Homo sapiens: one gene and its partner. The protein of the gene in region 2 interacts with the protein of the main gene of each other region in a biochemical or structural test. Each region holds a gene or a part of one and is shown on either strand. Other genes may lie near its edges.

The links.
Region 1: the proteins of CDH5 (region 2) and WARS1 form a complex in vitro, tested with the Homo sapiens proteins (one study listed by IntAct).

What each region holds. Positions count from the first base shown.
Region 1 is NC_000014.9:100,333,695-100,337,443, forward strand, and holds the end of WARS1 (tryptophan--tRNA ligase, cytoplasmic), read right to left. Parts: intron 3,509-3,749; coding exon 3,368-3,508; intron 1,343-3,367; coding exon 1,181-1,342; 3' UTR 96-1,180; downstream 1-95. UniProt on the Homo sapiens protein: Catalyzes the attachment of tryptophan to tRNA(Trp) in a two-step reaction: tryptophan is first activated by ATP to form Trp-AMP and then transferred to the acceptor end of the tRNA(Trp).
Region 2 is NC_000016.10:66,390,588-66,394,336, reverse strand, and holds part of CDH5 (cadherin-5 preproprotein), read right to left. Parts: coding exon 3,747-3,749; intron 2,202-3,746; coding exon 1,954-2,201; intron 1-1,953. UniProt on the Homo sapiens protein: Cadherins are calcium-dependent cell adhesion proteins. They preferentially interact with themselves in a homophilic manner in connecting cells; cadherins may thus contribute to the sorting of heterogeneous cell types.

The DNA.
Region 1 (3,749 bases), on a different chromosome or scaffold from region 2:
TTGACTCCAGCAGACTCAAGGTCATCCACAGAAGGGTGAGGGGAGGGGTCTCTGCTCCCTCCTCAGACCTCCCAGACAGAGCACAATGACAAGAGCAGGAGCCAAGGAAGTTTATTTACTCTACTGGGTGACAGGAGGGCAGAGTGCTCCAGAGGAGACCCAGATACATCAACCAAGGACTTCCCTGAGATTTGGCTTTGCTCTTCCAGGCCTGCACATGCTGCGTGATGAAATGAGGCCTGCCTAGACATCTGTGAGGGCCTCGAGGGCTGCTGCCTCGACTTTCTCCCTAGCTAAGTCCACCCGTCCAGGGACACAGCCAGGGCACTGCTCTGTGCTGACTTCCACTGCAGCCAAGGGTCAAAATGAAGCATCTGCGGAGGCCAGGACTCCTTGGCATCGGACACAGTCAGGGGAAAAGCCACCCTGACTCTGCAGGACAGAGGGTCTAGGGTCATTTGGCAGGAGAACACTGGTGTGCCAAGGGAAGCGAGCATGATTTCTGGAGTGGACTACATGCATGGTCTGGAGTTCAGTAAACTGGAAAGTTTCACCCCCAAGTCTTAATTTAATCAAAATTGCTGAACTCTGTTCAATCTTCATTGTTAAAAGCAGCTTTAAAGCTGGGTGATTTCTTAGTCAAATGTATAACGAAGCTTTTACTTATCAATTTCTTTTTGGGAGGGGGCATGGGCTGAAATACATCTTGTGCTCAATAAACCTCCCCACATCAATATTTCAAAGCACTTTCTAGGTTACAATAATGACATTTCAATTCCATATACGCATACATAGAATATATATTTTTAAACAGAGTGGGTCTTAAGAGTATACTTGGAACCCTCGGAGTCCTCCATGGACAAGAACAGGGTGGCCCATGGACTTCCAGCCAAAGGCTCCACTGTGGGGCTGCTTTGGGGAGAGACTCACAGCTGGACTTCTCTATCCGACCATGCAATGTTAGCCAGCACCAATTACCCACAATGCTTTGCCCATAAGAGATAGAAATAATGGAACTCACAGGAAGAAACAGTATTGATAACATACACAGGCTTACAGAGGCCAGGCCCAGTAATTACCATGAGACAGAAGCCTACAGGTGGCGGTGCTTTGACTGGGCTGGGATTATTGATACATTACTGATACATCACTTCTTTTATAAGCATATGTAAAACGAGTGCTACTGAAAGTCGAAGGACAGCTTCCGGGGAGTCATGAACTCTTTCACTATCTCATCCGTGACCTCCTTGCGCCGGGCCTGGTGCTCTGCGATCAAGGGCTGCAGAACCTCTATGAGTGCCTTCTTGAGCTCACCGGTGAGCATGGCTCCGCTGGTGTAATCCTGCCCGGAGGGAGACAGCCACGTGAGAGATGGCTCCACATGTCCTGAGTGGCTCCTTCCTGCCTCGGGCACCAGCTCAGCCCACACCACCCATGCAGAGCCTGGCACGTGGGTGGCACTCAGAAGTGAGATCTGTTGTTACCACAACAATAACCTATACCTTCAGCTACACTTTTCCTAAAACGGCTAGAAACCTGGCTCTGACGATAGCCATGACTTGGCCTCTCACAGTGAAAGGGCCAATGGGGAGGGCAGTCCCCACCCCTACCGATGCTAGGGGCCATTCCCCCAGGCACTAAACAACAACAATTCCTGGCAGCCTTATGGCTTCTGTAAAATCTTGCTAATTTTTTTTTTTTTGAGATGGAGTCTCACTCTGTTGCCAGGTTGGAGTGCAGTGGCATGATCTCAGCTCACTGCAACCTCCGCCTCCCAGGTTCAAGTGATTCTCCTGCCTCAGCCTCCTGAGTAGCTGGGATTACAGGTGCCTGCCACCACGCCTGGCTAATTTTTGTATTTTTAGTAGAGATGGGATTTCACCATATTGGCCAGGCTGGTCTCGATCTCCTGACCTCGTGATCCACTCCCCCCACCTGCCTCGGCCTCCCAAAGTGCTAGGATTACAGGCGTGAGCCACTGCGCCCAGCCAAATCTTGCTAATTTTTTCTTTTTCTGATTGTACTGCATGCTCATTAAGCAAATTTAATAAAGTACCCAAACCACAAAGCAGCAGCAAAGTAAAGAAAAATCACCTACAAATTGCCCACCTGAAAAATGCCCAGAGGTGGGTCTCCCGCTAACATTTGGTAGATTTTCTTCACATTTCTTTCCCTGTGCATTTCATTTAAACATAGTTAACTCCTCCCTGAGTTTTCATTTGGTATCCTTTTTTCACTATCATAGGCATATTTTCCTGTGTCACTAAAACTTTTTTTTTTTTAAAAGAAATGAGGGTCTTGGCTGGACGCGGTGGTCACAGCTGTAATCCAAGCACTTTGGGAGGCCAAGGCGGGTGGATCACGAGGTCGGGAGGTCGAGACCATCTTGAATAAGACGGTAAAACCCTGTCTCTACTAAAAATACAAAAAAATTAGCCGGGCATGGTGGCGGGTGCCTGTAGTCCCAGCTACTCGGGAGGCTGAGGCAGGAGAATGGTGTGAACCCGGGAGGCAGAGCTTGCAGTGAGCCGAGATTGCGCCACTGCACTCCAGCCTGGGTGACAGAGCAGGACTCTGTCTCAAAAAAAAAAAAAAAAGAAAGAAATGAGGGTCTTGCTATGTCGCCCAGGCTGGATTTGAACTCCTGGGCTCAAGGGATCCTCCTGTCTCAGCTTCCCAAGTAGCAGGGGCTACAGATGTGTGCCACCATGCCCTGCATATGAACACTTAAAATAGTTCATGCCCGCATAATAATCCACCCTGTAACAATTCTAATTTAACGTTTCCTCTGTTGTACTGAGTCTGTGTTGAACTTTTTGCTATTATCATTTTTAACATCTTTGTGTGGAAAGCTTTCTCTTACTCAGGATTATTTCCTTGGAAAAAATCTAAGAATGAGAAAACCTGAGGAGAAGCTCTGAACATTTTTGGGCTCTTTGTACCCAGTACCAAACTGCTTCCTGAGGCTGTGCTGATAAACACTCTGCTCACTTGAGTGTGCCTTGAAGCATCTGCTTCATAATCACTGAAAATAGTCAATGGCAACACAAAAGCCCCTACTAATTCTATACTCAACTGTCTTAGCTTTGATCACGTTAACTTACATTTCTCTGATGACTAATAAAGCAAGACTGTTTTGGGTGGCTCCTAAATGAATAGTGATTTGTATCTGCTCTTTCGAGATTTGTTCATGAGGCTTCTGAGCCCAGGCCTAAAAACCATGAGGGCGAGTCTACTCAGTTTTCACCTTGTTTCAGTTGAGCACCTCCGACCAAGCCTTCATGCCTGGCTGTTGGAGCCTTCCAGGCCCCATGGGCAGGAGTGGGTGGCAGAAGGCGGCTGTGGGCCCTTGGGGTTCCCTGCTCACCTTCCTGATCTGCTCGAGCTTGTCGTCGTCCTCGAGGAAGAAGGTCAGGTACATGAAAGACACGTCCACATCACAGTTGCCCCCAAACTGCCTGTGCTCCTCGATGGTGTCTCTCCCTCCAGAAAACGCATGCTTATTGACCTGCACCAGAAGAGGACACAGACACGCTCCTCAGTCCTGCTCATCCTGTGCCTGGACACTGGCTAGAAGCCCAAGTGTGGAAGTCAGAGGTGTGAGTGCTGTCAGATTCTGGACCCGGGAAAGGCCAAGGCGCACAGCCGGTTGGGGGCGCACAGCCAGTGGGGGACCCACTGCTGTTCTTCCTGTGAGGCTTGGGTGTGAGCTACTGTGGGGCTCACTGCAGGAGAGGTGGGGGCAGATG
Region 2 (3,749 bases):
AAAGTAAAGGTTGTAAAATTTGCATTAGGCGTATATGAATAACATGAAAACAGGACTAACAAATGTAACATCAGGAAACAGAATTAAAGGCAAAATATTTAAGCAGAACAAATTGGCTAATTACATTTGGATGAAAGTTACAAACCATAATGAAGGTAAAATAGTTGCAAACCTTTGTTAACTGAATAGAAAAATTTAAATACATAAAGTCAAAACTTAGATATTCTAGGAAGAAGTGGACACAAATACAATTGTATCACATCACAGAACAAGCTAAAGCAAAACAAAAAAAACACCCTATGACTTATAAATGAAAATAAAGAAATCAAGTCAATCTCTTAAATAAACCCTTGGATCAAAGGAGAAACAAAAATTATAATTACAGGCTATTTAGAAAAGAATGGCAATGAAGAGTAGTCCCAAAACTTAGGATATGAGGCCAAAATGGAAGAACATATTTTGTCCTTAATAAGAAGACTTAATACCCTTGAAACATTAGCTATACCAAAATTAATATATAAACACTAGAATTCTAATGTTTAAAAAACCTGGATACAAAATTTTAAATTTCACAAAAGAAAAAATGAGAGTTGACAAAAAATTATATCAAATAAAAAAGCAACATGGGAAGGACTTTTATGTATATCTAAGATCTAGTGTAAAGCTATATGGTTTGGATCTGTGTCCCCACCGAATCTCATGTTGAAATGTAATCCCCAGTGTTGGAGGTGGGCCCTGGTGGGAGGTGGATAGACCATGGGACAGAGTTCTCATGAATGGGTTAGCTCCATCCCCTAGGTTCTGTTCTCAAGCTAGTGAGTTATCATGAGACCAGGTTGTTGAAAAGTGTGTAACAACTCCCTTCCCACTCCTGTTCTGGCCGTGTAAGACGTGCCTGCTTCCCCAGGACTGTAAGTTTTCTGAGGCCTCCCCAGAAGGAGAAGCCACTATACTTCCTGTTAAACCTCTTTTCTTTATAAATTACCCAGTCTTAACTATTTCTTTATAGGAGAATGGACTTATACAAGCTAGTAGAATAAAACAGAATAGCTTTGCTATAGAATGATGGATAGGACAGAGAATTAGAAGTAGATACAGGTATATACAGAAAACTTAGTATATAATGAAGGTGGGAAAACGATGACTTATTATTATAATATTTAGTAAATGGTGCTGGCAAAATCAGCTATGCATCTACAATAAAATAAGATTGAATTGAATTTATACTTACTATTGCATATTATATGGCTCTAAAAAGTATCTGTTGGAACTATATCATTTTTTTCTAAAGATTGTAAAAGAGAAATTTAGTTAAGATAGAAGAGCAAATATCGATGAAACCAGCATGGCATGATCCAAAAAAATTTTAAAACAATCAAACATCAAAAGCAAACAGACAACAACAAACCCACCATAAATGCATCCACATGTTTGTGTGGTCACGAAAAGAAAGGAGCAATAGGACCAGGTTAGGCCACGAACATGAGTTATCTGAGAGTGGGGGTTATCAGTGTTTTCTTGGTAGATCTCTGTGTTGTTTCACTGTATAAAATGAACACTTCTTACTTTTGTGGTTTGGGGAAGATAGATTCAAGAATACAGTTTTAGTGAAGGGGCCTCTGGTGTGTCGTCTGATTGGTTGCTTTCTTGACTGTCAGATCTTACCACATAGGACTGGTGAGAGCTGTGGTGCAGAGAATAAGCCTTCAAGGCCGGACAGAGGACAAGTAGCTCTGGATGCCCAGGACCATGCTAGGTGGGGGAGTCCAGGCAGGTCAAGATGCCAGGCTGCCAAGTGCAAGAGCTTGGGCTTCTGGTCTTGCCTCTGTCACTTTCCCTGTAAGTGCTAGGAGAAGCCAGTTCCCCTCTCTGAGTCCTGGCCTCAGACCAGCAGGCATAGGAACATCCAGGCCGGATTGTCCTTATCATTCTCATCGACACACGCCCCCTTACCCAATGCTATGCCTAGCCGCATCAGGGTCCATGGCCAGCACTGTGCCAATCAGAGGCTTCTTCTGGTTTTCCTTCAGCTGGAAGTGGTAGAAAGGCTGCTGGAAAATGGGGGGCTCGTCCACATCTGTGATGTTGATAATGACCTGGGCTCTGTTTCCCGCGGGAGGGCTCATGTATCGGAGGTCGATGGTGGGGTCTGTGGCCTCGACGATGAAGCTGTATTGCTGGATGTATTCATAATCCAGAGGCTGCGTAAGGAAAAAGGATGGTGAGTGCCTGCTCTGGGCCAAGCATGTGTGTGGCACATGATCTGCACAGCAACTATGCAAGGTAGTACCAGGATGACACCCATTTTATAGATGAGGGGCCCATGGCCTCGACAAGTGATATTTCTGAGGTCATCAAGACAGCGGCTGGGCCTGGTGTCTGTCTTCAGCTGCTCCCCATTTCATCTCAGCAGCCTCATGGCCACACCCACAACCCTGGCTGTGTGCCTGGCCCTATTTCCAGCGTTTGGGACATAGAATGGATCAACTATGGTCCTGCTCTTAAGAGCGTCACTAGTGGTTCTACCCACAGGTCCTTAAGGACAGGCTTTTTCTTTGTTCTTGAGACAGAATATTGCTCTTGGTACCCAGATTGGAGTGCAATGGCACGACCTCCGCTCACTACAACTTCCACCTCCCAGGTTCAAGCGATTCTCCTGCCTCAGCCTTCCAAGTAGCTGGGATTACAGGCACCTGCCACCACGCCCAGCTAATTTTGGTATTTTTAGTAGAGACGGGGTTTCACCATATTGGCCAGGCTGGTCTCAAACTCCTGACCTCAGGTGATCCACCTGCCTCGGCCTCACAAAGTGCTGGGATTAGAGGCGTGAACCACCGGGCCCGGCCGGACATGCTTTTTCTTTATGCCTTTGCTCAAGATCCTTCTCCTGCCCTTGCCTGCCTAGAAAACTCCTACTCATCCCTCAGGAAGCCAAGCAGAAGGTAATCAGATGCTCTCTCAGAAACCCCTCCTAGCAGAGGTAATTGCTCCCTGTTCAGAGCTGCTGTGTATCACTTACACCTGGCTGTACTTTTTTTGTTCATGCATATGTCTTCCCCATTCGCTGAGACCTTTGCTGACACTGGAGGCTGTGTCTGCCTCTCCTTGGTGTTTCCAAGCCCCAGCATGGGGCTGGTTCAGAGAAGGACTCAGGCCCAGGACTTGCAATCCTCTGCATGGCCATTCCAGAGGCATTTTTTATGCCCCTCACAGGACCTCTCCCTCCTCTTCCAGATTCAGTTAATCTGGCTTCTCTGGCTGTCAGCAGCATCCAGTGTCAGTGGCCATCCATGTCACCACAATTACTCACTGTTTTCTTCATGCTGATGGATTTCTACTGGCCAGGACACATGGCAGGCCAGAAAGTGCCAGAGAGGTAATAACTCCAGGGGCAGCCCCCAGTCAACACCACGGACAGCGGGTGTATAAATACCCCAGCTCCTTCACCCTCAGCTTCTCCAACTCTGGGATGTGTTCCACACTTACCCCGCAGTGGGTCATTGCTCCTGGGGCTTCCTGGGATCACCTCCCAGATAAACAATTTACACCCAGTCATGGCCTTAAGATTTGCTTCCCAAGTAACTCGGCCTAAGACACTGGATCACAGTCTCCATGAACACATGACCACCTTGGAGCTTTGATGGTCCTTTGATGGTCTCTGGCCCAGGAGCAATCCCCAAGCAGGACCTGTGGGTGCCAAGAGCCCCAAGCCTCACGTTTGACATTGTTGCCATTGGCCTACAAACCTT